7 separate regions of the Homo sapiens genome follow, and regions 1, 2, 3, 5, 6 and 7 are each linked to region 4. The links come from fine-mapping of genetic effects on gene expression. A gene starts in region 4. Each other region holds a variant in brackets. All regions are shown on one strand. Distances are between the middles of the regions.

The links.
Region 1: its variant is fine-mapped to the expression of SLC20A1 in regulatory T cells (Bossini-Castillo 2019, PIP 0.95).
Region 2: its variant is fine-mapped to the expression of SLC20A1 in whole blood (INTERVAL, PIP above 0.99).
Region 3: its variant is fine-mapped to the expression of SLC20A1 in whole blood (INTERVAL, PIP above 0.99).
Region 5: its variant is fine-mapped to the expression of SLC20A1 in whole blood (TOPMed, PIP above 0.99).
Region 6: its variant is fine-mapped to the expression of SLC20A1 in whole blood (TOPMed, PIP above 0.99).
Region 7: its variant is fine-mapped to the expression of SLC20A1 in whole blood (TOPMed, PIP above 0.99).

What each region holds. Positions count from the first base shown.
Region 1 is chr2:113,181,081-113,185,145 of GRCh38, forward strand. PSD4 (pleckstrin and Sec7 domain containing 4) reads left to right here. Exons shown (of 17, transcript NM_012455.3): 2 at 1,266-2,432; 3 at 3,877-3,993. The coding sequence starts at 1,377. Among named protein-coding and RNA genes, the nearest start is that of PSD4, 9.1 kb to the left of the region's middle. The variant T/C (reference allele first, on the strand shown) is at 2,073.
Region 2 is chr2:112,703,563-112,707,627 of GRCh38, forward strand. No RefSeq gene overlaps it. Among named protein-coding and RNA genes, the nearest start is that of NT5DC4, 15 kb to the right of the region's middle. The variant T/C (reference allele first, on the strand shown) is at 2,386.
Region 3 is chr2:112,606,885-112,610,949 of GRCh38, forward strand. The region is part of intron 1 of LOC124907869 (a long non-coding RNA gene); the gene reads left to right. Among named protein-coding and RNA genes, the nearest start is that of CHCHD5, 24 kb to the left of the region's middle. The variant C/T (reference allele first, on the strand shown) is at 2,283.
Region 4 is chr2:112,643,472-112,647,536 of GRCh38, forward strand. SLC20A1 (solute carrier family 20 member 1) reads left to right here and starts at 2,468. Exons shown (of 11, transcript NM_005415.5): 1 at 2,468-2,658; 2 at 3,092-3,691; 3 at 3,853-3,993. The coding sequence starts at 3,358. It overlaps SLC20A1-DT (SLC20A1 divergent transcript), which reads right to left and starts at 709. Exons shown (of 5, transcript NR_033871.1): 1 at 628-709; 2 at 488-544. RefSeq lists silencers at 2,130-2,959, 3,421-3,715.
Region 5 is chr2:112,698,154-112,702,218 of GRCh38, forward strand. No RefSeq gene overlaps it. Among named protein-coding and RNA genes, the nearest start is that of NT5DC4, 21 kb to the right of the region's middle. The variant T/G (reference allele first, on the strand shown) is at 2,185.
Region 6 is chr2:112,727,178-112,731,242 of GRCh38, forward strand. NT5DC4 (5'-nucleotidase domain containing 4) reads left to right here. Exons shown (of 17, transcript NM_001393655.1): 16 at 2,450-2,527. Among named protein-coding and RNA genes, the nearest start is that of NT5DC4, 8.2 kb to the left of the region's middle. RefSeq lists an enhancer at 1-356. The variant C/T (reference allele first, on the strand shown) is at 1,788.
Region 7 is chr2:112,613,919-112,617,979 of GRCh38, forward strand. LOC124907869 (a long non-coding RNA gene) reads left to right here. Exons shown (of 2, transcript XR_007087193.1): 2 at 295-1,506. Among named protein-coding and RNA genes, the nearest start is that of SLC20A1-DT, 28 kb to the right of the region's middle. The variant A/C (reference allele first, on the strand shown) is at 1,990.

The DNA of each region.
Region 1 (4,065 bases), 540 kb after region 4:
AGCAGAGCATGGTGGTAGACGCCTATAATTCTAGCTACTCGGGAGGCTGAGGCAGGAGAATCGCTTGAACCCAGGAGGCAGAGGTTGCAGTGAGCCAAGACTGTGCCGCTACACTCCAACCCGGGTGACAGAGCGAGACTCTGTCTCAAAAAAAAAAAAAAAAGACAGCTGCCAGGGGAGTGCTTACGACATGCCATAAGGACCTGTGTACTTGACCCTGCACTTCCACTTTGTGGAGAGCCAGCACCATGAGACAAACAAGTTACAAGCTTCACAGTGTGCTTTGGATCAAAACAAGCCAGCTATTCTGAGGAAGCAGGGCTGCTCTGAGAGCCGTGTAAGCGGTGGGCTGCATGCAGGGGATGGAAATGCATGCTTCTAGAAAACACCCTGCGAGGTTCCTGGGCTCATCTGATAAGGGCCCACCCAGAGTGTTAGTGCAGGCTGTGCACACAGCAGCTCTGGGCAGATGTGAGGCAGTTCCAGGCAGACATGGCTGCCACATCCCAGCCTCTTCCTCCCTAGAAGGCAGAGATCTCCTCCCCATGCAGCAGGCAGTCTGCTGGGTGGTAGGCAGCAGGGCTGAAGCATCCTCCCTTCATGAGGGCTTGGGCTGAGTTAAGCAGAGAGCCCCTTGCTGCTTCCACCTGGGCCAAATTCCAAGCTGCCAACAGCTTACAAGGACAAAGAAGCAGGCTGTGAGCCAGCCTGGTGAACAGGGTAAGGCCCCAAGGATAGGAGCCTTGGAAAGTGGAAGTAAGGCAGGCTGTGGCCTTCATGTCGTGGGTGCCTGCTTCTTCCATGAGTCTGTTGCATTCTCCTCACCTCGTCTGTGTCTGTTTGGCTCCCACATGCTTTGGTTTACATGTCCTTTGTGGCTTGCAGCTGCTTCCTTGATACCTAGAGGCATTTCCGCCTTCAGTTCCTGCTGCCAACCACCTCGGTCTCCACACTCTCCAATCCAAATGCCCAAGAGAAGGATCTGATTTGGCCAGTTTGTTCTTTTCAGCTAAGCCACATGGGCTACCTTCAGCCAACAGATGGGTGTCTTTGGGGCAGGTGCTGCCCTGGTGCAAGTTTAGAGATTGTGGGATCAGATGGAATATGTGGTACACTCCTTACTCCCAGCAGGGCTGTGGAGGGCAGTGCTAAGGAGCAGCAGGCATAGATGGGGAAGACACTCCAAACACATCTAACACACTACACACGTGCCTCCAGAGGCTGACAGCCCTTCCCTAACCTGCACTTGCTTTGGGCATTTCCAGGGTAGATATGGATTCCCAGTTTCTCCAGCGGCCAGTGCTCCCCCTAGTCCACACAGTGAGACCGTGAAAGCAGATGCTCCGGGGCACTCCTGGGCAGCTTTTGCTCAGTGGATGATGGGTGACTACAGACTCCCTGACCACCCCCAGCCCATGGAAATTCTCAACCTGTACTTGGGAGACAGCCTGGAGCCCCACCCAGGAGAGTGCCCAAGGGAAACGTGCAGCCATGAGGATCCACCGGAGCCTTTCGAGGAGCAAACCTGGGCCACTGACCCTCCTGAACCTACCAGACAAAATGTTCCTCCCTGGGGCTCCGGTGTGGAGCTCACACACCTGGGGAGCTGGGTCCATCAGGACGGGCTGGAGCCTTGCCAGGAGCAAACCCGGGCCACTGACCCTCCTGAATCTACCAGACAAGATGCTCCTCCCTGGGGCTCCGGTGTGGAGCTCACACACCTGGGGAGCCCCTCTGCCCAGAGGGAGCACAGGCAGAACACAGCATCACCAGGGTCACCAGTGAACAGCCATCTACCGGGGAGCCCAAAGCAGAACCGGAGCACGTCCACACAGGTAGTGTTCTGGGCAGGCATCCTGCAGGCCCAGATGTGTGTCCTAGACCTGGAGGAGGAGCTGGAGAAGACGGAAGGGCTCAAGGCTGGGCTGAAATGCTGTCTCCCCACGCCCCCTGTGGACCTCCCCGGGGACACGGGCCTGCACTCCAGCCCACCTGAGAATGAAGACTCAGGGGAAGACAGCAGTGAGCCTGAGGGAGAGGGCCAGGCATGGCTGAGAGAGGGAACCCCAGAC[T/C]CTTCCCCACAGTGGGGAGCTGAGGAGGAGAGCATGTTCTTCAGCAACCCCCTCTTCCTGGCGAGTCCTTGCTCAGAGAACAGTGCTTCTGGAGAGTGCTTTTCCTGGGGGGCTTCAGACTCCCATGCAGGTGTGAGGACTGGACCTGAGAGCCCAGCGACTCTGGAGCCTCCCCTCCCAGAAGACACAGTGCTGTGGGAGCTGGAAAGTGAGCCAGATTTGGGGGACGGCGCTGCTATCAGTGGGCATTGTACCCCTCCATTCCCTGTGCCCATCTATAAACCACACTCCATCTGCTGGGCCTCAGTGGCTGCCGCTGAGGGGGCTCCTGCAGCACCTCCTGGTCACGGGGAGAGTGAGGTAAGCCCAGTCTTGGGAACCAACCGGGGCTGTGCTGGGAACACAGAAGGGAGGGTCTTCCTCGGGGGTCACCAGGCCCAGAACATTCTTTTCTGACGCTAAGAGCTTTGGGGATAACCTGCATCAGTATATAGCAGGGTAATAGAGCAGAAAATCAGGACCAGTGTTGTCTTCAGAATGATAGGACATTTTATCAATGCCATGATGTCAGCTGATGTCAGCTGATAATTAAGTCCATAAATGTCTCCATCTCACCAGCTCCAAGGGGCCATGCCTAGATACGTTTGGAGAACAAACAGCTCCTCCAATTGCAGCATGTTCCAGGCCATTCTCAGATTCTTCCCCTCCCATCTCCAAGACATTCCCAACTGTAACAGGGCAGCGCTCAGCCTGCAAGGGTGACCTTTGCCCCTAACAGAGAGATGCCTATTTCAAAAGTCCAGTCCTCTCTCTTCTTGACAGATTTCAGCATGTTGTTACTTTTAGCTCACCATCTGTCATTATTCCCCTGTCCAGTGTCAATAGATCAGGCCCATATGACAATGGCAGAGATTCTTAATATCAACTAAGGATGGGGACATGCTCTGTGAGACAATAGGGAGCACAGTTTTCCCAGGGAGGCCTCTCCTTAAGAGATAAGGAGACTCAATATGGTAGAGTGTGGCTGTAATTTTCTAATATCTCAATTCCCTGAGAACAATGAAGAGCTATTACCCAGAGCAGCTCTATTACCAGAGCAGCTCTTGGAGCCCAAGATCAGAGAAGCTCCTGGGTACTGATGGGAGTCCTCTCCACCATGGGCCAGGGCCCCCAGTGTGGGGCAGTTAGGGCTGTGCCTGTGGAGGTCCATTTTCTCAGGACTTTCTTTTTTTTTTTTTTTTTTTGAGACGGAGTCTTGCTATGTTGCCCAGGCTGGAGTGCAGTGGTGCCATCTTGGCTGACCCTCCACCTCCCAGGTTCAAGCGATTCACCTGCCTCAGGCTCCCAGGTAGCTGGGATTACAGGTGTGTGCCACCCCACCCAGCTAATTTTTGTATTTTTAGTAGAGATAGGTTTCACCATGTTGGCCAGGCTGGTCTTGAACTCCTGACCTCAGGTGTTCCAAACACCTGGGCGTCCCAGAGTGCTGGGATTAAGTGAGCCACTGCGCCCGCCATGGACTTTCTTGTTCTAAGCACTAACTTCTCAGAGGGAAGCCTGGGAACGCTATAAGTTGCAGGTTGGCTCCTGTCTGGGAAGGCAGAGCCCACCCAGCCCAGTGCCTGGGGCTATCACCCTCCCTAAAACACAGCCCCTCCTTGGGCTGGCACCACCTGAGGCAGGGCCATCAGGGCAGACTGTGAAGGGAGGAGGCTTCATGGGATTTGAGAAAGGCCCTGGGAGCAATTTTCCTCTAGTCACCTCTCCTCTCCTTCTCTCCTCTGTCTCTCTCTCGACTTCTCAGGGAGATAGGCTTGGTCCTGCTCCATCTGCAGCACCGTGTGTGGACGAAGCATTGACCTGGGAATCAGGATGTGTCGGATCTGATCTTGGCCCTGCTGCACATCCTGTGCAACCTTGGGCAAGTCACTTCCCCTTTCTGGGCCTTACTTTCTCCATCTTTGGAGGAGGAATATGAGCCCATTCATTTCCA
Region 2 (4,065 bases), 60 kb after region 4:
CTCCCTAAGTGCTGGGATTACAGGTGTGAACCACTGCACCCAGCCTTTTGCCTATTTTTAAATTGAGTTGTTTGTTTTCTAGTTGTTGCATTTTAGGTCTTTTTTTTGTCGGGGGCAAAGGGGACGGGGTATCATTTTGTTGCCCAGGCTAGAGTCCAGTGGTACAGTCATGGCTCACTGCAAACTCAACCTCCTGGGCTCAAGCAGTCCTTCTGCCTCAGCCTCCTGAATAGCTGTAACTTTTTATTTTGTTTTGTAGAGATGGGGTCTCACTATGTTGGCCAGGTTGGTATTGAACCCCTAGTCTCAAGCAATCCACCCACCTCAGCCTCTCAAAGTGCTGGGATTACAGGAATGAGCTATGACGCCTGGCTAAGAGTTCTTTGTATAAAGTGGATAACAGTACTTTATCAGATGTGTCTTTTGCAAATGTTTTCTACCAATTCCTGGCTTCTCTACTCATTCTCTTGACATTGTCTTTCAATATTACTGCATTTTAATTAACCACTTTGAAACTCTATAGGGAATTTTTAAGTTCATTTTACTTATTTATTTTTTTGAGACGGAATCTTGCTCGGTCGCCCAGGCTGGAGTGCAGTGGTGCAATCTCAGCTCACTGCAGCCTCTGCCTGCCGGGTTCAAGTGATTCTCCTGCCTCAGCCTCCCCAGTAGTTGGGACTACAGGCATGTGCCACCATGCCCAGCTAATTTTTGTAGTTTTAGTAGAGATGGGGTTTCACCATGTTGACCAGGCTGGCCTCGAACTGCTGACCTCAGGTGATCCACCTGCCTCATCCTCCCGAAGTGCTGGGATTACAGGTGTGAGCCACTGCTCCCAGCCTTTAAGTTCATTTTTAAAAGTTGGTTTTTTTGTTTGTTTGTTTTGTTTTTTTGAGATGAAGTTTCACTCATGTTGCCCAGGCTGGTGTGCAATGGTGCGATCTTCACTCACTGCAGCCTCCGCCTCCTAGGTTCAAGTGATTCTCCTGCCTCGGCCTCCCGAGTAGCTGGGATTACAGGCATGCACCACCACGCCTGGCTCATTTTTGTTGCTGTTGTTGTATTTTTAGTAGAGATGGGGTTTTGCCATGTTGACCAGGCTGGTCTTGAACTCCTGACCGCGGGTGATCCGCCCTCCTCAGCGTCCCAAAGTTCTGGGATTACAGGTCTCAGCCTCTGCACCCGGTCTCATTTTTAAAAGTTTGAACTCATTTTTTTCCTTGTCCTTGAGTACGCTTTTCAGTCTCGGTCTTTGCCTTCTTCCCTCTTATATCTACTGTCTTCACCCTTTTTCACAGCTTGAGTCATTCAATAAATGTTGAGTGTGCACCTACTACATGCCAATCCCTGTAGATACTGTGGATATGCTATGGAACAAGAAAGACAAGCTCCGTGCTCTCTTGAGTCTTCCTGAAGGGTCACATCTACTATATACATAGAAATGTAAAAAGAAATACATGCTTGTTATTTTAAAAAAGAATAAAATAGAAGTGTATAAAGTAGGATGTGAATGTTTCCCCTCAGTCACCCTAATCCCACTCCTCTGTAGTCTCTATAGTTAATGGCTTGGGGTGTAGACTTCGATGGTACCTTTGGCTAAACCAAATCTGCATGATGTGGAGGTCTCAGGTTGTGGCAGACCTGGCAAAAGTATTTCCAGATGGAAATTGGCACTGGTTGGGATGTAAAAACCAAGCCAGAGTATCCCCATTTTCATTCCCAGAAGTTCTCTTTTCGATAGGCTTGCCTGATTGTTGCCTGCTGACCTTGGAAGTACTTGAGGCTTCCAAGATGTGTTCCTTGCAACCCTGGCTGGGATGCTGTTCTAAAAGATTCCATGGTCAAAGGAGTTTGAGATACACTCTCTATTATAATTCCCTTCTTGGGGGCTCATTATGCATATCAAAGCATCAAAACTCTGAGAAGTCCTGCAGTCATAAATCTTGTTTATTCCCATCTTCCCTAAATGTATTTAATCATGTCTTCTATTTGTTCCATGGAACTCTCGTAACTCCTTGTTGATCCCGGGTTCTGTGGAACTGACTCAGGGAGCCCAGGAGCCTGTGCTAGCCCATCTGCATATGGTTATTGCACCAATAGCTCAAGGAGGTAAGCAAGCAAAGTGTTCCAGATCAGTGACTGACACAGTGTCCTGTGCAAATGTGCTGTGAATACAGCATTTCTCCAGGGCATTTTGTATCTTTCTAGGGTGAGGCGAAGGCCTCCGAGGATGTGAGCTTCCCCTGAAAAAATTCACAGCAGATGACCAGTGATGCAGACCAACCTCGCCACCACTCATGCAAGAACATTCTATATTCATGACCTTTGCTTGTGAAACCCAGTGACCACTGTGGGCTCTAGGCTTATTTAGACATAAGCTTGGCT[T/C]GCACTCCAAATTCAATGCCTTCTAGAAATCCAAAGTACTCCTCAGAATTTCCACCATTTCCCTAGACACCATGCCCTCATGTTATCTCTGACTTTAGCTCCTGTTCCTATGGGTGCTGTCCTGGTTCCACGCCTCCAGATGGTAAAAATGTCAGCCCTTGAGATTTCTGCAAAGGGATCTCTTCACAGCAAGCATGTGGTGTATGGGAGGTTTGGAGCAGGAGTGGGCATGTGAAGAAGACAGAGGAGAGGTCTCGGCAGCCTATGGTATGGTAGGCAGCCCCATCTGTAGAGTCCCTGATCTTGGGGGCACCAGTGGCCTCCATCTCATCCAGTCCTGGCTTCCTTTGCACGTGTTGCTGCTCTCTTTCTGTCTCTTCCTTTCCTTCCCCTCTCTCCACCCCCTTTGCTGCAAAGACTCCTGACTCACGCAAGAGTTCAGCCCTATCTGCAGATCTCACCTTACTCAAAGGGGCTTATCAGGCCAGTGGTGAGGGAGTGTGGTCTGTACAACCACAGGAAGCGGGTTGGCCTGTTGGAGCATGAGCTCTTTTTTTGCTTTGTAGATCTTGGTATTTGTTCTTCTTGGATTTTCTAGTGCTTTCTGGAAACTCTGCTTTCTCAGGCTGTAGGAATGGGAATTCAGGGCATGTCCCAATGTGGGAGCAATGAAGGAAGCATAGACAGAGAGATATGTGATGTGCGTGAGAAAGGACAATTTTTAAAATTTTTAATGAGAACAAATTTCTTGGAAAAGATAATCTAAACAAAAGGAAAAAAAATCCAAGTTATAAGAAGAGTATACAGTGAAAAGCAAGCCTTCCTCCCCACTTTCAGTCCCTTAGTTCTTGTTCCTAAAATAGCCACTGTCACCAGCTTCTTATTGATCTTTTGGGAAATGTTTTATGTGTATATAAACAGAAATGTATATGTATTCTCCCCCAATAAAAAAAATAAATGATAGGCTGGACGCTGTTGCTCACGCCTATAATCCCAGCACTTTGGGAGACTGAGGTGGGTGGATCATTTGAGATCAGGAATTCGAGACCAGCTTGGCCAACATGATGAAACCCCGTTTCTACTAAAAATACAAAAATTAGCTGTGCATGGTGGCGGGTGCCTGTAATTCCAGCTACTCGAGAGGCTGAGGCAGTAGAATCGCTTGAACCTGGGACGTGGAGGTTACAGTGAGCTGAGATTGCGTCACTGCACTGCAGCCTGGGCGACAGAGTGAGACTCTGTCTCACAAAAACAAACAAACAAACAAACAATAAATAAATGGTAGCCTGTCATACATATAATTTTACTTTTGCCTTTTAAAAATTTAACAGCATATACCTTCACTATTTTACATGGAGCTACTTATAAATATATGTTCATAAACACACACAACACACGTATATTTTATTTTTTTCCTTTTATTGGCACAAAAGTCAAACCTAGGTGATCCTTCTCATCAGCCATTGGAGAAGGCTTCTAGGGCATGGGATTTTCCAGTATGAGGTGGTATTCTGGGTGCCAGAGATTCCTGACGTCAGATTTAGTGACGATGAACACTAAGCATCGTTTCCAACTGCTCATAGCTGTGGCAGATTGTATCCTTGTTCCCAGTTCTCTTCTGTCCACTCTGTAACAGGATCTGTCTGTATCACCCCAGGCCGCGGGACCTGGAGCACCTTC
Region 3 (4,065 bases), 37 kb before region 4:
AGGTGAAGCCCATACCACACTGCAGCCAAGCAGCTTTATAGCTGGTAGCTATGCACATGCTCTCAGGGATGGGAAGGCATAATTCTAGGTGGTCCCCAAATTCCCACTCCCTCATATACATGCCTTGTATCATCGCCTCCCGTCGAGTGTGGGTGCTAATTCTAAGCTACAGACAAGCATTTTCCCCTTCCTTCCTAAGCTACAGCCAAGCCTGCCTGCCTGCCTTCCTTCCTTCCTAAGCTACAGTCAAGCCTGCCTTCCTTCCTCCCCTCCCTCCCTCCTTTCTTTCCCTCCCCTCGCCTCCCCTCCCCTTCTCTCCCCTCCCCTCCCTTCCCTTCCCTTCCTTTCCCTTCCCTTCCCTTCCCTTTCCTCCTTCTCCCTCCCCTCCCCTCCCCTTGCCTCCCCTTCCCTGGCCTCCCCTTCCCTTCTTCTCCCTCCCCTCCCCTCGCCTCGCCTCCCCTCACCTAACCTCTCCTCCCCTTGCCTCCCCTCCCCTCCCTTTGCCTTCTCTTGCCTTCCCTTCCCTTCCTCTTTCTTTTGACAGAGTCTTGCTCTGTTGCCCAGGCTGGAGTGCGGTGGTGTGATCTCATCTCACTGCCTCGGCCTCCTGAGTAGCTGTGATTACAGGCATGCGCCACCATGCCCAGCTTCTTTTTTTTTTTTTTTTTTTTTTTTTGTATTTTTAGTAAAGACGGAGTTTTCCCCATGTTGGCCAGGCTAGTCTCAAACTCCTGACCCCTAGTGATCTGCCTACCTTAGCCTCCCAAAGTGCTGGGATTACAGGCATGAGCCACCGTGCCTGGCCCAGCCAAGTGTTTTCTAGTCTGCAGCTATACTCAGAGGAGGGCAAGGCATGGAGTCTCATGCTTACCAGAACCAGGGAAGCAGGTGATAAACTGGCTCGGGAGAGTTCTGAAGAAGACTGCCCATCTTGAAACCGCCTTTGCCAAAATTATGGGGAATTATGACAGTGAAATAGATCAGACCTAACTGACTCCATCTTGCTTCTAACCTCTAAACTGTCCTTATCCATTCCTGGGCATAGGCCGAACTAGCCTTGGGAAGGAATTTAGTTTATAGTTTAAATAACAGCCCTTCCCAAAAGCAAATCTGTTCTTGTAAAACGAATGAAAGGCCACCAGCCACCAAGTTAGGATGAGAGGGGCTGGAACTCTAAATATTACCAGCTGTTACGTGGAAGGTCATGAGATTTGCAACTTCCCTGATTACTCTTGAAGATAACATCACCATTGTGAACCTGAGATTGGCCTTTTGAGATGTCTTTTCAGGTTTTTCCATTTCTGACAAGTGGTTGGCCTCACCTGGACCTGCCAACCAGTTCTGTGGCACTCACCCAGGAACTGACTCAGCATAAGAGGATAGCTTCGACTGCCTATGAGTTCATCCTCAAGCCAACCAATCGGTGCTCCTGGCTCACTGGACCCCTACCCACCAAATTATTCTTAAAAACCCTGATCCCTGAGTTTTCTTTTCTTTTCTTTTTTTTTTTTTTAATTATACTTTAAGTTCTGGCAAACATGTGTACATCGTGCAGTTTTGTTACATAGGTATACACGTGCCCTGGTGGTTTGCTGCACCCATCAACCCGTCACCTACATTAGGTATTTCTCCTAATGTTATCCCTCCTCTAGCCCCCGACCCCCTGACAGGCCCCGGTGTGTGATGTTCCCCTCCCTGTGTCCATATATTCTCATTGTTCAACTTCCACTTATGAGTGAGAACATGTGGTGTTTGGTTTTCTGACCTTGTGATAGTTTGCTGAGAATGATGGTTTCCAGCTTGATCCATGTCCCTGCAAAGGACATGAACTCATCCTTTTTTATGGCTGCATAGTATTCCATGGTGTATATGTGCCACATTTTCTTAATCCAGTCTATCATTGATGGACATTTGGGTTGGTTCCAAGTCTTTGCTATTGTGAATAGTGCCACAATAAACATACGTGTGCATGTGTCTTTATCATAGAATGATTTATAATCCTTTGGGTATAAGCCCAGTAATGGGATTGCTGGGTCAAATGATATTTCCAGTTCTAGATCTTTGAGGAATCGCCACACTGTCTTCCACAATGGTTGAACTAATTTACACTCCCACCAACAGTGTAAAAGCATTATTTTTCCACAACCTCTCCAGCATCTGTTGTTTCCTGACTTTTTATTTATTTATTTATTTTTTTATTGAGACAGAGTCTCGCCATCTTTCCCAGGCTGGAGTGCAGTGGCACGATCTCAACTCTTTGCAAGCTCTGCCTCCTGGGTTCA[C/T]GCCATTCTCCTGCCTCAGCCTCCCGAGTAGCTGGGACTACAGGCACCTGCCACCACGCCTGGCTAATTTTTTTGTATTTTTAGTAGAGACAGGGTTTCACTGTGTTAGCCAGGATGGTCTGGATCTCCTGACCTCGTGATCCACCCACCTCGGCCTCCCAAAGTGCTGGGATTACAGGCTTGAGCCACCGTGCCCGGCCTGTTTCCTGACTTTTTAATGATCGCCATTCTAACTGGCATGAGATGGTATCTCATTGTGGTTTTGATTTGCATTTCTCTAATGACCAGTGACGATGAGCATTTTTTCATGTCTGTTGGCTGCATAAATGTCTTCTTTTTAGAAGTGTCTGTTCATACCCTTTGCCCATTTTTTGATGGGGTTGTTTGCTTTTTTCTTGTAAATTTGTTTAAGTTTTTTGTAGATTCTGGATATTAGCCCTTTGTCAGATAGATAGATTGCAAAATTTTTCTCCCATTCTGTAGGTTGCCTGTTCACTCTGATGGTAGTTTCTTTTGCTGTGCAGAAGCTCTTTGGTTTAATTAGATCACATTTGTCAATTTTGCCTTTTGTTGCCATTGCTTTTGGTGTTTTAGGCATGAAGTCTTTGCCCATGCCTATGTCCTGAATGGTATTGCTCAGGTTTTCTTCTAGGATTTTTATGGTCCTAGGTCTTACATTTAAGTCTTTGATCCATCTTGAATTGATTTTTGTAAAAGGTGTAAGGAAGAGGTCCAGTTTCAGTTTTCTGCATATGGCTAGCCAGTTCTCCCAACACCATTTATTAAATAGGGAATCTTTTTCCTATTGCTTGTGTGTGTCAGGTTTGTCAAAGATCAGATGGTTGTAGCTGTGTGGTGTTATTTCTGAGGCCTCTGTTCTGTTCCATTGGTCTATATCTCTGTTTTGGTACCAGTACCATGCTGTTTTGGTTACTGTAGCCTTGTAGTATAGTTTGAAGTCAGGTAGCATGATGCTTCCAGTTTTGTTCTTCTTGCCCAGGATTGTCTTGGCTATGCAGGCTCTTTTTTGGTTCTATATGAAGTTTAAAGTAGTTTTTTCCAATTCTGTGAAGAAAGTCTGTGGTAGCTTGATGGGGATAGCATTGAATCTATAAATTACTTTGGGAAGTATGGCCATTTTCACGATATTGATTCTTCCCATCCATGAGCATGGAATGTTTTCCCATTTGTTTTTGTCCTCTCTTATTTCCTTGAGCAGTGGTTTGTAGTTCTCCTTGAGGAGGTCCTTCACATCCCTTGTAGGTTGGATTCCTAGGTATTTTATTCTCTTAGTAGCAATTGTGAATGGGAGTTCACTCATTATTTGGCTTTCTGTTTGTCTGTTATTGGTTTATAGGAATGCTTGTGATTTTTGCACATTGATTTTGTATCCTGAGACTTTGCTGAAGTTGCTTATCAGCTTAAGGAGGTTTTGGGCTGAGACAATGGGGTTTTCTAAATTTACAATCATGTCATCTGCAAAGAGAGACAATTTGACTTCCTCTCTTCTTATTTGAATACCATTTATTGCTTTCTCTTGCCTGATTGCCCTGGCCAGAACTTCCAATATTATGTTGAATAGGAGTGGTGAGAGATGGCATCCTTGTCTTGTGCCGGTTTTCAAAGGAATGCTTTCAGTTTTTGCCCATTCAGTATGATATTTGCTGTGGGCTTGTTATAAATAGCTCTTATTATTTTGAGATATGTTCCACCGATACCTAGTTTATTAGAGTTTTTAGCATGAAGGGGTGTTGAATTTTATCAAAGGCCTTTTCTGCATCTA
Region 4 (4,065 bases):
TTTGGTCCTCACAACAGCACTGTGAGTTAGAAGTCTCAATCTCACCCCTTTACAGATCAGGAAACTGAGGCAGATAATTTATTTGCCTATGGTCACAGGACTAGTGAGTGACAGAGCAGGTGGTTTGGTCTTACAGTCTATGTGTTTAACCACTACACCAAACCACCTCCCTAAGATGCTAGAGGGGGTTTGTGCCAATGCCTGGATTCTAAGAGATTAGATTCTCTTTAGGATCTCTGACCTGTTTCCTCAGCATTCAGAGATAAGGCCAGAAACAATGCCATTTGTGCACGAACTGACAACTGACGGTCCTCCTACCTCCTATTTCTATTTAAAAGGCACTGTAACTTCTTTCCACAGGCAGATCCCTACCTCTCCTCCCTTAGGGGAGGACGAAGGTGTCCCAGCCAAGGAAGATCCTGGTCTCCAAGGGCTGTACCCTACTGATCCGGAGGCAAAGCAGTGAGGGCCCACCCCAATTCCTCACCTCCCATTCTACTCTTCGGCAGAAGCATCTCAGTGTTGGAAAGATAAGGATTTCTTCCTAAAAAGGAAGGATTACACTATATCAGAGTCTGAAGATACAGTTTTCATTTGCAACGCAAGGGAATTCCTTTGAATCTCTACCTTATGATTTCCCTGCAAACCCACTCCGATGGGGCTGGAGAGTGCTCTCTCACTCAGATGAATCTCTCAGGGGTTGTCCAGCAGGTGTTTGCCAACTTGAAGAGCTACCTACTATCACAGACCTATAAAAGTACGCCTGTGGACAGACTGAAAACAAACAAACAAAACACACACACAAACACACAAAACAACCGCACACTGGGAGAAGTTCTAGGCAATTTCCTTGCAAATAACTGCTTTGAAAATTACTGTTTTAAATTGGCAGAACACTAAGGACTTTGAACAGATCATCCCTTTTACTCAATGTTTTCATAACCTTGAAGTGAAGGTGGAGGGAGCAGTACGTTTTAAGGTGCCAGGATTACACTACGGGGTCAGTGCTCCCGGATATGAACTTTCTTTTTCAGACCGACCTTGGGACCTACAGCTTTGTAAGTTACTCATACAACTCCATCAAATGTTACAGGTAGGTCAGAGGACATTCAGGTTGTTTAAGCCTCTATAAATGACTCAGGCAGCAACAATTTACAACGTCTTTGTTTCTGCTATGCAGTGCCCTCCTGCTAGAGATGGCAAAAATGTGGGGAGGGCTTCAGAGCATTCTAAGCCTGGTATTTCTGGCTGGAATTTTTAAATCTCACTACAATCCTGACAAGAGACCACGACCTTAATCTCCCACGGCATGACTGGTTAGTCTTGATCGTAAGCCATATAATCAACACCCAAATGTGCATAACACATCTAAATAATGTCAAAACTACACTATATACCACGCAGGGGACCAGAAATCAATCTTTACCTCAAAAGGATAAGCTTCCAGGATGCAATAACATCCCCTTCCACCCTTTTCTACACCCTAAAACAGTAATATTCACGGTAACAGCAAAGCGGAAATCAGCTTTTCCTGAACATGTACTGAATTCTAGTCACATTCACACACGTTAATTCATTTAATTCCAGCCACAAGGTAGGCAGCCTCTGTTAACATTTTACAATTGTGAGAACGCAGAGATCTGGGACTGGCTCAAGGTGACACACTGCAGCAAGGAGTCAGAATTTGAATCCGAAGCAGTGTCCTTCCCCCTCGCAACAGCTGCGGCGTTACAAACACAGGTCAGCCACGGAGAAATTAATGACCCACAGCCATCCTTGCAGCTCTGCGCCATAACTGGGGAGACAAGCTGGTTCCCGTGACTCTTCAGTCTGTTTTCACCCAAGTGCATGACTGCGGGAGCAAAGCGACCACGTGAGCATCCCCCCCCCACCCCCCCGCTTCCCCCAGGCGAGGGACAGTGCCAGGCCAAGGACAAGTCACAGGTGCAACAACGTGCCAGAACTGGATCCGGAGCCCCAGGGCGCAAGATCTCCCGCAGCGTCACCCGGCAGAGGGACGGGTGTGGCCACCGGGCGCGGCAGGTCCTGCGTGCGCTGAAAGTGCGGCTGGAGGCGCGGACGGCTTTCCGGAGCCCCGAGAGAGGAGCTAGGAATGACTTTGGTCGCAGCCTCTGTAACCCCGCATGACGGCCTCTAGGGGGACAGCGAGGTCCCCCTCGATCTCTGGCTGTAATCAGCCGGCGGGGCCAGACGGTGCCGAGACTCCAGGGCGAGGCCGCAGGGAGGGGGCTGTCCCGCCCCACGTGGACCGGCTCCCCGCTGGGGGCGTGGCCGCCGAAGCGGGCCGGGCCAATGAGCGCCACCGTCGGGCTCACCCGGCTGGGCACGCCGGGCCGAGGAGGGCTGCGTCATGCCGGGGGCGGGGCTTCGGGGCCGGCGCGAGGCGCGGCGGGGTCACGCGGGTCGCTGCGCGGGCTATAAGTAGGGGCCGGCGGGGTGCTCCGCTGGAGTGATGGCTGCCGGCGCTCTCTGCGTGGTTCTTCTTCTCGGCCGCTGAAACCCCCGCGGCTGCTTCCTGGGAAGGTCGTGAGTCCCGCTGAGCTGTCCCCGGTGCCGCCGACCCGGGCCGTGTGCCCGTGGCTCCAGCCGCTGTCGCCTCGATCTCCTCGTCTCCCGCTCCGCCCTCCCTTTTCCCTGGTGAGTAGTGGCGCCGCCTCGTAAAGGCTCTTTCTTCTCCCCGGGGCCGGGCGCGGACGCCGTGGCGCTGGAGGCGGACGCCGTGGGCGGCGCGGCTGGCTTCTCTCTTCGCCGCTGGCCGCCTCCACTCCGCCCGTCTGCCCGCCCGCGGGCCTTTTTGGCGGTCCCCGGGCGGCGCGCGCGGGAACGGCCCTTTTCCGATTTTCGCGCGGAGGGCGCGCGCGGGCTGGCAGCGCAGGGGCTGGGCTGGGCGCGCGCGGGCCGCGGAGGACCCGGAGCCACGTGCCTCTCCTTCTCGCGCGTCCTACTGGGGATGGGGGTCTGGAGTAGCCGGCAGAGGCTATTGCGGGACCCCGGGCGCGTGGGTAGAGCGGGGTGCCCCACTGGCCCCCCAGGGGCACGCAGCTATTGTTATTTCCCCCCTCCCCCGCAGGATGAACTTGCGTCCTTTCTCTTCTCCGCCATGGAATTCTGCTCCGTGCTTTTAGCCCTCCTGAGCCAAAGAAACCCCAGACAACAGATGCCCATACGCAGCGTATAGCAGTAACTCCCCAGCTCGGTTTCTGTGCCGTAGTTTACAGTATTTAATTTTATATAATATATATTATTTATTATAGCATTTTTGATACCTCATATTCTGTTTACACATCTTGAAAGGCGCTCAGTAGTTCTCTTACTAAACAACCACTACTCCAGAGAATGGCAACGCTGATTACCAGTACTACAGCTGCTACCGCCGCTTCTGGTCCTTTGGTGGACTACCTATGGATGCTCATCCTGGGCTTCATTATTGCATTTGTCTTGGCATTCTCCGTGGGAGCCAATGATGTAGCAAATTCTTTTGGTACAGCTGTGGGCTCAGGTGTAGTGACCCTGAAGCAAGCCTGCATCCTAGCTAGCATCTTTGAAACAGTGGGCTCTGTCTTACTGGGGGCCAAAGTGAGCGAAACCATCCGGAAGGGCTTGATTGACGTGGAGATGTACAACTCGACTCAAGGGCTGCTGATGGCCGGCTCAGTCAGTGCTATGTTTGGTAAGTTCTTTTTATGTTTTGTCCTCTTCGTGGTGGGTGAGCAAATTTGTATCATGGGTGGTTCCATTTTTGTGCATAACCTTTCCGATTAACCTTTCTGAATGTGCCACTTACATAATGGAATTTTGATATTTACTTAATAAAACTTTACTATGTTTCAGGTTCTGCTGTGTGGCAACTCGTGGCTTCGTTTTTGAAGCTCCCTATTTCTGGAACCCATTGTATTGTTGGTGCAACTATTGGTTTCTCCCTCGTGGCAAAGGGGCAGGAGGGTGTCAAGTGGTCTGAACTGATAAAAATTGGTATGTTTAATTCCAAACGGCTTCTTAATTTTCGTTTTCGTCATATGTTACCATGGCATTAGGTATGGGAGG
Region 5 (4,065 bases), 55 kb after region 4:
GAAACTTCAAATATAGATTCTTATTCCTCTTTTTTTAAATAAATAATTTCAACTTTTATTTTAGATTCAGGAGGTATATGTGCATGTTTGTTACCTGGATATATTGCGTGATGCTGAGGCTTAGGGTACAATTGATCCGGTTACTCAGGTAGTGAGCTTAGTACCCAATAGTTAGTTTTTCAACCCTTCCCCTCCTCCCTCCCTCCGTCCCTCCCTCCCCTCTCTAGTAGTCCCCAGTGCCTATTGTTGCCATTTTTGTGTCCATGTATATCCAATGGTTAGCTCTCACTTACAAGTGAGGAAATGTGGCATTGGTTTTCTGTTCCTGCATTAATTCACTTAGCATAATGTTCTCCAACTGTATCCATGTTGCTGTAAAGGATGTGTTTCACTCTTTTTTATGGCTGCTTAGTATTCCATACTGTAGAGGTACCACATTTTCTTTATCTAATCCATGGATGAGCACCAATCCATGATTTTGCTACTGTGAATAGCACTTTGATGAACATACAAGTACATGAGTCTTTTGGTAGAACTATTGTTTTCCTTTGGGTATATACCCAGTAATGGGACTGCTGGGTTGAATGGTAAGCTCAGCTTTAAGATCTTTGAGAAATCTCAAAATTACTTTCCACAGTGATTAAACTAATTTACATTCCCACTAACAGTGTCTAAACCTTTTATTTTCTCCACAGCCTCATCAGCTGGTTTTTTTTTAATTTTTTGACTTTGTAATAATAGCCATTCTGACTGGTGTGAGACGGTATCTCATTATGGATTCGATTCCCATTTTTCTGATGATCAGTGGGTGGAGCATTTTTTTCATATGTTTGTTGGCTCCGTGTGTATGTCTTCTTTGGAGAAGTGTTTGTTCATATCTCTTGCCTACTTTTTAATGGGGTTATTTTTGTTGTTGTTGTTACTCCCTTCTTTTTTTTTTTCATGCAGAATGTAGATACTATTTGTTCTGCAAACTTTTCCCCCACAGTTGTTGGTAAATCTTGGAGGTCTTTCCTTACTAGTAGATAGAAAGCTTCCTCATTCTTCTTTTTTTTTTAATTGAGGTATGATTGACATGCCAAAAAGCTGTACATATTCAGTTTGTACATCTTGATGAGTTGAAAATAAATATATACCCATGAAACTGTCACCATAAAAAAGCCATAAACATAACCATCAAATCTAAAAGTTTTCTCTCTTCCTCTTTTTTTGTGGGTGTGATAATGACATTTAATATGAGCTCTGTCCTCTTAACACCATTTTAAGTATACAATACAGTATTGTTAATTATATGTGCCATGCTGTACAGCAGATCTCTAGGACTTGTTCATCTTGAATAGCTGAAGCTTTGTACTTTTTGACCAGCATTTCCCTGTTTCCCTCTCCCCCCAGTCCCTGGTAACCTCACTTTTCAAAGTCGTATGTGTATAAAGTATTGCATTACTGTGGGGCCTTAACTTTATTTAACCAGCCTTCTATTGATGGATATATGCTACTTATTTTACTGTTATAAGCAGTGTTACCATGAGCAGCCTTATATATGTGGACATTTTGGATTTGTACAAATCAATCTGAAGTGTAAAAGTGGAATGGGTCAAAGAAAGGATTGATCTTTTTTTTTTTTTTTTTTTTTTGTAGAGTCAGTATCTTGCTGTGTTGCCCAGGCTGGAGTGCGGTGGCACCATCGTGGCTCACTATGGCCTCAAACTCCTGGGCCCAAGCAATCCTCCCACCTCAGCTTCTCAAGTAGTTAGGACTACATCACAGCCAACTAATTTTAAACATTTTTGGCAGAGATGGGGTATTGCTCTGTTGCCTGGGCTGGTCTCAAACTCTTGAGCTCAAAAGATCCTCCCGCCTCTGCCTCCCAGAGTGCTGGAATTATAGGCATGAGCCACCACACCTGGCTGATTTATCTTAATTTTGATAGATGCTGTCAGATTGCCTTCCAGAAGTGGTTGCATCCATTTACATTCCCACGAATAATGTTTGAAAGTTCCTCTTTCTCCACAGACTCACCAACAGAGAATATTATCAACTAGTTGGATTTTTGCCAATGTGATAGGTGAAAATTATCTGTAGTGTTAATTTGCAGTTATTTTATGAGAGATTTTGATGATCTTATACATTTAAGAGCCAGTTGTTTTCCTTTTCTTTGAATTGTTTGTTCATTTTTCTCTTATT[T/G]GGTTATTGATGTTTTTCTCAAAGCTCTTTATGTATTAGGGAGATTCACTCTTGTCTGTGTTACGAGTTGTAAGTTCCTCTTCCCACAGTGTCACATGCTTTTGGTTTTGCTTATGGTGTATTTCATCACTGCCTTCTGAATTATGATTGCTTAAATTTTTTTTTTTAATTTTGAAATAATTTATGACCCAAAGAGTTACAAAGATAGTACAGAGAGTTCCCTTAAATCCTTCTTTCAGCTTCCCCTACTGTCCTCCAGAATTATGGTACAATGACTTTCAGTCAGAAAGGTAACATTGACTCAGTGGAGTTAATTAATACATAGATTTCAGTTGGGTTTCCCTAGTATTCCACCTAATGTCCTTTTTCTGTCCAGCATCCAATCTAGGATCCTGTTTTGATTTAGTAATGATATCCTCTGAATCTCCCATCTGTCACAGTTTCTCAGTCTTTTCTTGCTTTTCATGACGTGGACAGTTTTTAACAGTAATGGTTGGGCATTTTGTAGAATCTTCCTCAATATAAGTCCATTCAATGTTTTCTCATGGTTATATGAAGGTTATGGATTTGGGGGGAGAATAATGCAGAAGTAATGTGCTTTTCTACCAGTGTACCATGTCAGGATACATGATATTAACTCTGATTGCTTGGCTAAGACAGTGTCCAGCTGGTTACTCCACTGTAAAGTTTCTATTTTCCCCCTTGTAATTAACAAGTATTTTGGGGGAGGTACTTTGAAGCTACTGAAATATCCTGATTTTTCTTAAGCTTCTGATGCAGGGCAAGTGAGCCTCCAAATTGGAGATTAGCCAGAGGGGGTTTTTGGCTTTGCTCAGGAAAGAATTCAAGAGTGAGCCAGTGGTGTGAGACAGCAACTTTTATAGATGCGGTAGTGAAGGGCAGCAGCAGAGGAACTGCTTCTTCTGGAGCACGGCTACCCATAGGCAATGTGCCCAGAGCAGCAGCTCAGGGGCAGTTCTGCGGTTATACTTATACGTACTTTATTTATTATCATTATTATTTTATTTTTTGACAGAGTCTCACTCTGTCGCCCAGGCTGGAGTGCGGTGGAGCGATCTCTGCCTCCCTGGTTCAAGCGATTCTCTTGCCTCAGCCTCCTGAGTAGCTGGGACTACAGGCATGTGCCACCACGCCCGGCTAATTTTTTATGTTTTTAGAAGAGATGGGATTTCACCATGTTGGCCAGGCTGGTCTTGAACTCCTGACCTCAAGTGATCCACCCGCCTCAGCCTCCCAAAGTGCTGGGATTACAGGCATGTGCCACCATGACTGGCCTGTATTTTATATACAAATTAAGTGATGGGTTATTCAGAAATTTCTAGAAAAGGAGTCATAACTTCCAGATGTTGCCATGGCAATGGTAAACTGTCATGGCACTGGTGGGTGAGTCTTATGGAAAGATATTTTTGGTGCCTCTTCTCTGTTTCAGCCAGTCTTCAATCTCATCTGGAGTCAAGTCCTGCCTCCTACCTCACTTCTACCCACTAATTTTAGCATTCTTATATGGATCTTGTTACAGACTGGGCCAGCTACATAATTTGTAGGTCTTAGCACAAAGCGAAAATGCTGGGATTGCAGGCCTGAGCCACCGTGCCCCATCAATCATTGCTGTTTTAAAATTAATAAACTTTATCTTTTAAAGCAGTTTTAGTTTCACAGCAAAACTGAGCAGAAGGTGCAGAGTTCCCATCCACCTCTCCCCACCCATGCACAACCTCCCACACTGTGGACATCCCCCACCAAAATATTAAAAATCGATGCACCTGCACTGACTCATCCTCGTCACCCAGAGTTCATAGTTTACATTAGACTTTGCTCTTGGTGCTGTACATTCCATGGGTTTTGACAAATGTATAATTA
Region 6 (4,065 bases), 84 kb after region 4:
AGCCAGGTGGAGGGAGTCAGGTCACTTGGTCATCCCAAGCCCAGCTGGGGCCGATCACAAAGGGTCTTTGCAGAGCCTTTTACAAAGCACAGCCGTTTGATCTTCCCCACAGCCTTAAGAGGTGGATGGAGCAGGGATTGTCACCTTTATTTTACAGATGAGGAAACTGAGGCTCAGAGAGAGGTCATCCTGGGAGTAAATGTTGGAACCATTCTCTAGGCTCTAAAAGCAGACAGGAAACAGGGCCTGGTGGCGGGGTGGGGCCTGCCAGGATAGTAGGAGCGAGGCTGGGGGTGTCGCCTTGCCAAGTCCTCTGTTGGACTCAGATGGTAAATGAAGCTGTGGGTTTAGTCCTGGGTGGTCCATCTTCAGGGCCAGGCAGGTAACTGTGATGGAAAGCTGCAGCGGGGCCTGTGGCAAAGTGAGGAGCTGCCCCACCTCCAAAAGCCAAGTGTGCAGCCTGTGGGTCTACAACATGCTGCTCCTTCCTACAGAGAGTCACAGGTTTCAATGTCCCCCGGTGAGAGGCCCAGAGAGGCCAGGGTTGCCCAGAAAGGGAGTAGGCCAGGTCAGGCCTAAGCGGGCTGGGATTTCAATTCAGTGTGTTGCCCCTCTGGCCAGAGGGTCACCCAGGAGCTGGACCTGTGCTACAGCACCATGGGCAGCTTGTTCCGCTGCGGTTTCCGCCAGACACTCTTCTCCAGCCAGCTGATGCGCTATGCCGACCTCTACACTGCCGCCTGCCTCGACCTCCTGTACTTCCGAGTGAGCTCAGCTCTCTCGGGCGGCCCCGGAGTTGGTGGGTCCCTGCGGAATCTCCACGGCTGTTTGTGAACATTTATCCTAGAAGGACCCACTGGTCCCCAGCCTTGCTAGGAGCTTGCAAGGTCACCAGCCCTAATCTCCCACCTTCAGACTCAGTGGGATCACAGTCTTGCAGATAACTGTCTGTGTCTTAACAGACGCATGGGAAGAGTTAGGTTTATACAGATAAGATGCCTCGGCAGGGATGTTCTTCCTCATGCCCAACCTTAACTCCTGCTTTAGATTGAGACCACACTATCTCGTCATTTCCTTGGTAGAAAGGATATCAGTTGCAAGGAGGAAGGCACAGTCCTCCTACCCTCAGTAAACATACAGTGGCTTCCGAAGGGGTGGAGGAGGCAGCAGATGATACAGTAAACACTCTGGCTGGTTTTCCTCTGGGAGACCGGAGGATGCTTCTGGGTTAAAAACAGGGTGGTAGAGGTGGCTACGATGGCACTGGGCAAGGGTTAGTAGGAGTCATGGGACTGGCCAGCTCAGGGCTTCCCTGGAACCTGCACGTGTCAGTCCTCCCAAGTTGGCATCATCATTTCCATTTGATAAGACGTAGAGCTTGCAGTTTAGGATCTGAACTTGAAGCTAGACCTCTGAGGCTCCCTGTCGCCTGCCTTCCCTGCTGCCCTTGGCTGCCTTCCAGACGTTTGAGAGGGGAAAACCATTTATTGAGTGTCTGCTGTGTTTCCTGCACTGGGCTGGGTGCTTTTCATCGATTATGCTTAATGCTCAATATAACTCAGCAAAGTAGGTTTTATCTTCCTCATTTTATCATTGATGAGGAAGCACAGAGAATCTAAGTGACTTGCCATCACACAGCTAGTGGACCACACAGCTGGGATGTGAGCCTGTCAAGCTCCAGGGGTCACACTGTGTCTCCTGCACTGTGCTGCCACACACATGGGGGAACTGGCTTTCACCGGGCGGCCTCATCTCATCTCTGGACTCTTAGATGGGCTGGCCCAGAC[C/T]GCTCCTGTGGGCAAAGCTGGGGGTCCAGGCATAGCCCTCTGTGCTGGTAGATATTATTGTTAAAGTAGAGACCAGACAGGTGAAGAACACACCAACCCCCCATCCCCAAAAGTGACAAGGCGAAACACTTAAAGAAATTTGACCTTGCCAATCTTCCTGGCTTGGGATTTTTTTTTTGGCCAAGTCTAGCTCTGCTGCCCAGGCTGGAGTGCAGTGGTGCAATCTCTGCTCAATGCAACCTCCACCTCCCGGGTTCAAGCAATTCTTGTGCCTCAGCCTCCCAAGTAGCTGGGATTACAGGCATGCACTACCATGCCCAGCTAATTTTTATGTTTTTATAGAGACAGGGTTTCACCATGTTGCCCAGGCTGGTCTTGAACCCCTGGGCTCAAGTGATCCGCCTGCCTCGGCCTCCCAAAGTGCTGGGATTACAGGCGTGAGCCACCGCGCCTGGCCTTGGCCTGGGATTTTTGAGGAAGTGAAGTCCAGCTGCCAGAACCTTCCTGCCCCTGCTGACCTTCCGAGGTTCCTTCCTCTGCAGCAACATCGTTGGGCAGGAAGTTGGCAGCTGTGGGCAGGGGAGCCTGTGCATAGCTGAGGAATCCTGGAAGGCCGTACCCGGGACGGAGTGCTTCACCTCCACCTGCATTTATCCCTACAGATGCCACATGAGTCAGTTGTGGAGCAAGAACAGGCCAATCTAGACCCTGCCTCCTGCCTCCTCTCCTGCAACCAGAGGGTGAGTGGCTGTGGCCGACGAACTCTGTGGCTTGGGGTCCCATGGGCTAGAGTAGTGGTTCCCAGTGGGGTTGTATCAACCCCAGGACGCATGAGGCAATTGGTGGGGGGGCTTGTGGGCTTGTTTTTGTCTGCAAGCATAGTCATTCCTCATTATTTATGTAAAAATGCGTATTATTTTATTGTAAAATGCTTTTCTCTTTATTTCTCCTTTGTTAGAGTATTATCTTGATACTTTAAATTATAGAGATGATAATTGTATCGATGAATTTCAATTCAGGATGGAAAAGTAGAAGCTAAATATTTGTTTTTAAAATGGGATATTGGAGCCAGGTGTGGTGTTTCACACCTGTAATCCCAGCACTTTGGGAGGCTGAGGCAAGTGGATCACCTGAGGGCAGGAGGTCGAGACCAGCCTGGCCAACATGGTGAAAACCCGTCTCTATTAAAAATACAAAAATTAGCTGGGCATGGTGGTGGAAGCCTCTAGTCCCAGCTACCCGGGAGGCTGAGGCAGGAGAATCACTTGAACCCAGGAGGCGGAGGTTGCGGTGAGCTGAGATTGCACCACTGCACTCCAACCTGGGCAACAGGGAAAGACTGTCTCAAAAAAAAAAAAAAAAAAAAAGCGACAGTTGGATCCAAAAGGGCGACAGGTTCTGCTCAGCAGTGCTTTGTGCACTGTTGGGCCCTGCACCCCTACGGACTGCTGTTGGCCAATCCATACACATTATTCCCTCCAGGGGAAGTTGCAGGATGTGCCCTCTTCCACATTGAGGCTTCCTCCCCAGACAGGCTTTGTTAACATTAATGACTAGTGGCTCTAGCTTCAGATCCCTTTGACACTTTGTGAGGCTTGACCCGCGTCTGAGCTGAGACAGGAGTGGATGCCTGGATTCCTCGTTGGGTTCTGCACCCCCAAAACCCTGCATAAATGTTCCTCTTTCTCCCTTGGCTTTCTGGGGGCTCACTTTAAAAGATGTGTATCCCATAGGTCCCCTTTAGCTGGGTTGTACCAGGCACAGTGTTTGTTCTTTCAACCAGTATTTACTGAGCACCTCCTGTGTGCCGGGCAGTTTAGAAAATAAAGTGTAAGTTACTTCATTCCTGCCTAGGAGAAGCTCAAAATTCAAGTGCATTCACAGGCTTTAATCAGTGGTTGGCAACTGTTTTTCTATCCTAGCCCAGCAGAGAGATGGACACACTCCTGTCAGTAACAGAGGCTTGCTGGGGAAGCCTGTGGTTTGATCCCTCTATATCCTCACCCCATCAGGATCCAGCCTAGGGCATTTTGACACATTATCTACCCCTGGTTGGGCGTCACTGTGTGAGCTTGGGAAGAAAATATCCATAGTCACTTTCTGTGTTTCTTATAAGGGTTAGGGCAAAGAGAGAAACGAGGATCAGGAAAGTTACATCGAGGCTGACGGAATCCTGGACATGGGCTGGCATCACGGGCCATCTTCTACTTGAGATATTTTTCAGATAACACAAGTATGGAAAAAGGAAAAAGCAACTGTATTGAAATCTCCTAAATGC
Region 7 (4,061 bases), 30 kb before region 4:
TTAGAACATGTTCCTCTAGCTCGGAGTTGTTTGTTATTACCCTCCTTCTGACGCCTACTTCTGTCAGTTCGTCAAACTCATTCTCTGTCCAGTTTTGTTCCCTTGCTGGCGAGGAGTTGCGATCTTTTGGAGGAGGAGAGGCGTTCTGGTTTTGGATTTTTCAGCCTTTTTCCACTGGTTTTTCCCCATCTTTGTGGATTTATCTACCTTTGGTCTTTGATGTTGGTAACCTTCGGATGGGGTCTTTGAGTGGACGTGCTAATCCTTTCTGTTTGTTTCTTTTTCTTCTAACAGGCCCCTCTGCTGCCAGTCTGCTGGTGTTTGCTGGAGGTCCCCTCCTGACCCTGTTTTCCTGGGTATCACCAGTGGAGGCTGCAAAGCAGCAAAGATTGCTGCTTGTTCTTTCCTCTGGAAGCTTCGACCCAGCAGGGAACCTGCCAGATGCCAGCCAGAGCTCTTCTGTATGAGGTGTCTGTCAGCCCCAACTGGGAGGTGTCTCCCAGTCAGTATACACAGGGGTCAGGGATCCACTTGAGGAGGCAGTCTGGCCCTTAGCAGGCTCGCATGCTGTGTTGGGAGATCCGCTGCTGTCTTCAGAGCCATCAGGCAGGGACGTTTAAGTCTGCTACAAGCCTGACTGGGCTGCTGCCTTTTTTACAGAGATGCCCTGTCCAGGGAGGAGCAATCTCGCAGTCTGAACACGGCAGCCTTGCTGAGCTGCAATGGGCTCCACCCAGTTTGAACTTCCCAGCAGCTTTGCTTACACTGTGGTGGTAAAACCGCCTGCTCAAGCCTCAGCAACGGCGGACGCCCCTCCCCCTACCAAGCGCCACCGTCCCAGGTGGATCTCAGATTGCTGCTGTGCTGGAAGCGAGAATTTCAAACCAGTGGATCTTACTTTCCTGGGCTCCATGGGGGTGGGAACCGCCGAGCCAGACCACTTGGCTCCCTGGCTTCAGGCCCCCTTTCCAGGGGAGTGAACAGTTCTGTCTCGCTGGCGTTCCAGGTGCCACTGGGATATGGAAAAATAAAATAAAATAAAAGCTCCTGCAGCTAGTTCAGTGTCTGCCCAGTTGGCCGCCCAGTTTTGTGCTTGAAACCCAGGGCCCTGGTGGGGTAGTCACCAGAGGGAATCTCCTGGTTTGCAGGTTGTGAAGACCATGGAACAAGTGCAGTATATGTGCCCAAGTTCCTCAGGCTGAGACCCTCACAGCTTCCCTTGGGTCAGGGGGAAAATTTCCCGATTCCTTGCGCTTCCCAGGTGAGGTGACACCCCACCCTGCTTCCGCTCAGCCTCTGTGGGCTGCACCCACTGTCCAACCTGCCCCGGTGAGATGAACCAGGTACCTCAGTTGGAAATGCAGAAATCACCCACCGTCTGCATCGATCTCGCTGGGACCTGCAGACTGGTGCTGTTCCTATTCGGCCATCTTGAACCTCTCTCCTGATCCCTGAGTTTTCAGAGAGACTGATTTGAGTAATAATAAAACTCTGGTCTCCTGCTCAGCCAGCTCTGCATGAATTACTTTTTCTCCATGTAATTCCCCTGTCTTGAAAAATGGGCTTTGTCTAGGCAGGGGGCAAAGTGAACCCACTGGGCGGTTACAATCTCACCGTGTTTCAGGAGCCTCGGGTGTTCTTGCACAAGGGGAGTCAGACTGTGGTTGAGCCTTGTCTACATGGCCTAAGTGAAGACATGCAGGGTTGCCAGGGCACTGTGGAGTTGGCACTCCATACCACCATGCTGGACCTTCCACATACCCCGCTGATAATTCTTCTGGATATTGTTTTTTTTTTTTTTTTTTTTGAGATGGTGTCTCACTCTGTTGCCCAAGGCTGGAGTGCAGTGGCACAATCTCGGCCCACTGCAACCTCTGCCTCCGGGTTAAAGCAATTCTCATGCCTCAGCCTCCTGAGTAGCTGTGACCACAGGTATGTGGTACCACACCTGGCTATTTTTTGTATTTTTAGTAGAGACAGGGTTTCACT[A/C]TATTGGCCAGGCTGGCCTTGAACTCCTGGCCTCAAGTGATCCACCCACCTCGGCCTCCCAAAGTGCTGCAATTACAGGCATGAGCCACTGTGCTGAGCCTGGGAATTCTTTTTTTTTTTTTTTTGAGATGAGGTCTCACTGTGTTGCCCAGGCTGGAGTGCAGTGGCACAATCTTGGCTTACTGCAACCTCTGCCTCTTGGGTTTAAGTGATCCTCCCTCCTCAGCCTACCAAGTAGCTGTGACCACAGGTGTGCACCACCACACCTGGTAATTTTTGAATTTTTGGTAGAGGTGGAGTTTCACCTTGTTGCTCAGGCTGGTTTCAAACTCCTGAGCTCAAGTGATTTGCCCACTTGGGCCTCCCAAAGTGCTGATATTACATGTGTGAACCACCATGCCTGGCCTGGAAATTCTCCATCACTTACCTTAGATGTACTGGTAGAAGGTTGGACCAAATCCTTTTCCTTAGGCAACATTAAATGAGAGTAACCATGATGATGACTCCCAGGAGGACAATTAGGCCTGCTTGGAAAAAGATAGGCTGCAATCAGACTTCCCATCCAGAGCCAAGCCAGTTAGGTATGTCATTAATTCAGATGTCCTACTTGGCTGGCTGGCAGAAAATCCAGGGCAATGTGATCATCCATTACCGCTCACACTTGATAGCCCAAACTAGGTGCGTGGTAGGCAATTATATGCCTGATATCCACCATAAGAAGTGCTATTCATTTGGGGCAAAACTGTAAGAGTATAAGTCTCCGGCTATCGTAGCCCAACCTAGTCTCAATGCTACGTCCTGCTCAGGGCGAATTAGATTCTGCTAATAGGTTTGGGTGACCACAGCAGCAGCACAGTGCTGACGTGACGTCAAGGTCCAATTCTCACAAGACTGGAGGCTGGGATTAACAATATAAAGGAAATTTAAGTATCAGAAAGAGCCTGAAAGAAGGAATAGTTCCTGGAAGAATACTTCCAAAGTACTCAAAGGAGGAGATTTTTTTTTTTTTTTGAGATGAAGTCTTGCTCTATCCCCCAGGCGGAGTGCTTTGGCACGAACTAGGCTCACTGCAACCTCCGCCTCCTGAGTTCAAGCAATTCTCCTGCCTCAGCCTCCTAAGTAGCTGGGATTACAGGCACATGTCACCATATCTGATTAATTTTTCATATTTTTGGTAGAGGCGGGGTTTCACCATGTTGGCCAGGCTGGTCTCGAACCCCTGATCTCAAGTGATCGACCTGCCTCAGCCTCCCAAAGTGCTAGAATTACAGGCATGAGCCATCGAGCCCAGGCAGGAGGAGCTATTAAAAGTTTGTCAGCAGGGTCAGGAGGGGTAAGACAGATTGAGCAACACAAGGAAGTTTTGTTATTTTTTTTAGGTAGTGGAAGGGGACCAGAGATACCAGCAATAATAGGATAGGAGAAAGCAGGAAAGAAACCTAAGTGTCCAGAAAATTATCTTTTTTCTGATGTCTTGGGCAGAAGTTCTCCACTTCTAAAGTTGGAGGTCCTCGATTTAAGGTCTCTCGATAGAATGGGAGTAGTAGTTAGACTGAGGGCAGTGGTGATAGCCTGGACAACATGACAAAAAGATTCTGAGATGACAGGCCAAGCCAGGTGTTCTGCAGGCAAGAGCCAAGAGAGATCTAGAGTGTTCCTTCACCACCATCCTGGGCTTTTGATGTTTTTTCATGGCCATGAGATAGGTATAGCTAGTCCCTGCAGTCCTCACTCAGTCTAATACACACCATATGGCTGAGTTTATTCCTAAGCAGTGCAGCTTTGTGTGTGTGTGCGTGTGTGTGTTTGCAACTTGTGCCATCTAGAACATCTTCCACTCCCTCACATAGTGTGCCATGCCGGGACCACTTTGGGAGTCGTCACTTCATACTCATGATCAATATCATCAGTATCTATAATTGCCCAGATCCAGGAAGCATAACTGGACAGTAAAAGCAGCATCAGGTTAGGCTGGGCATGGTGGCTTATACCTGTATTCCCAGCATTTTGGGAGGCCGAGGCAGGTGGATCACGAGGTCAGGAGATCAAGACCATCCTGGCTAACATGGAGA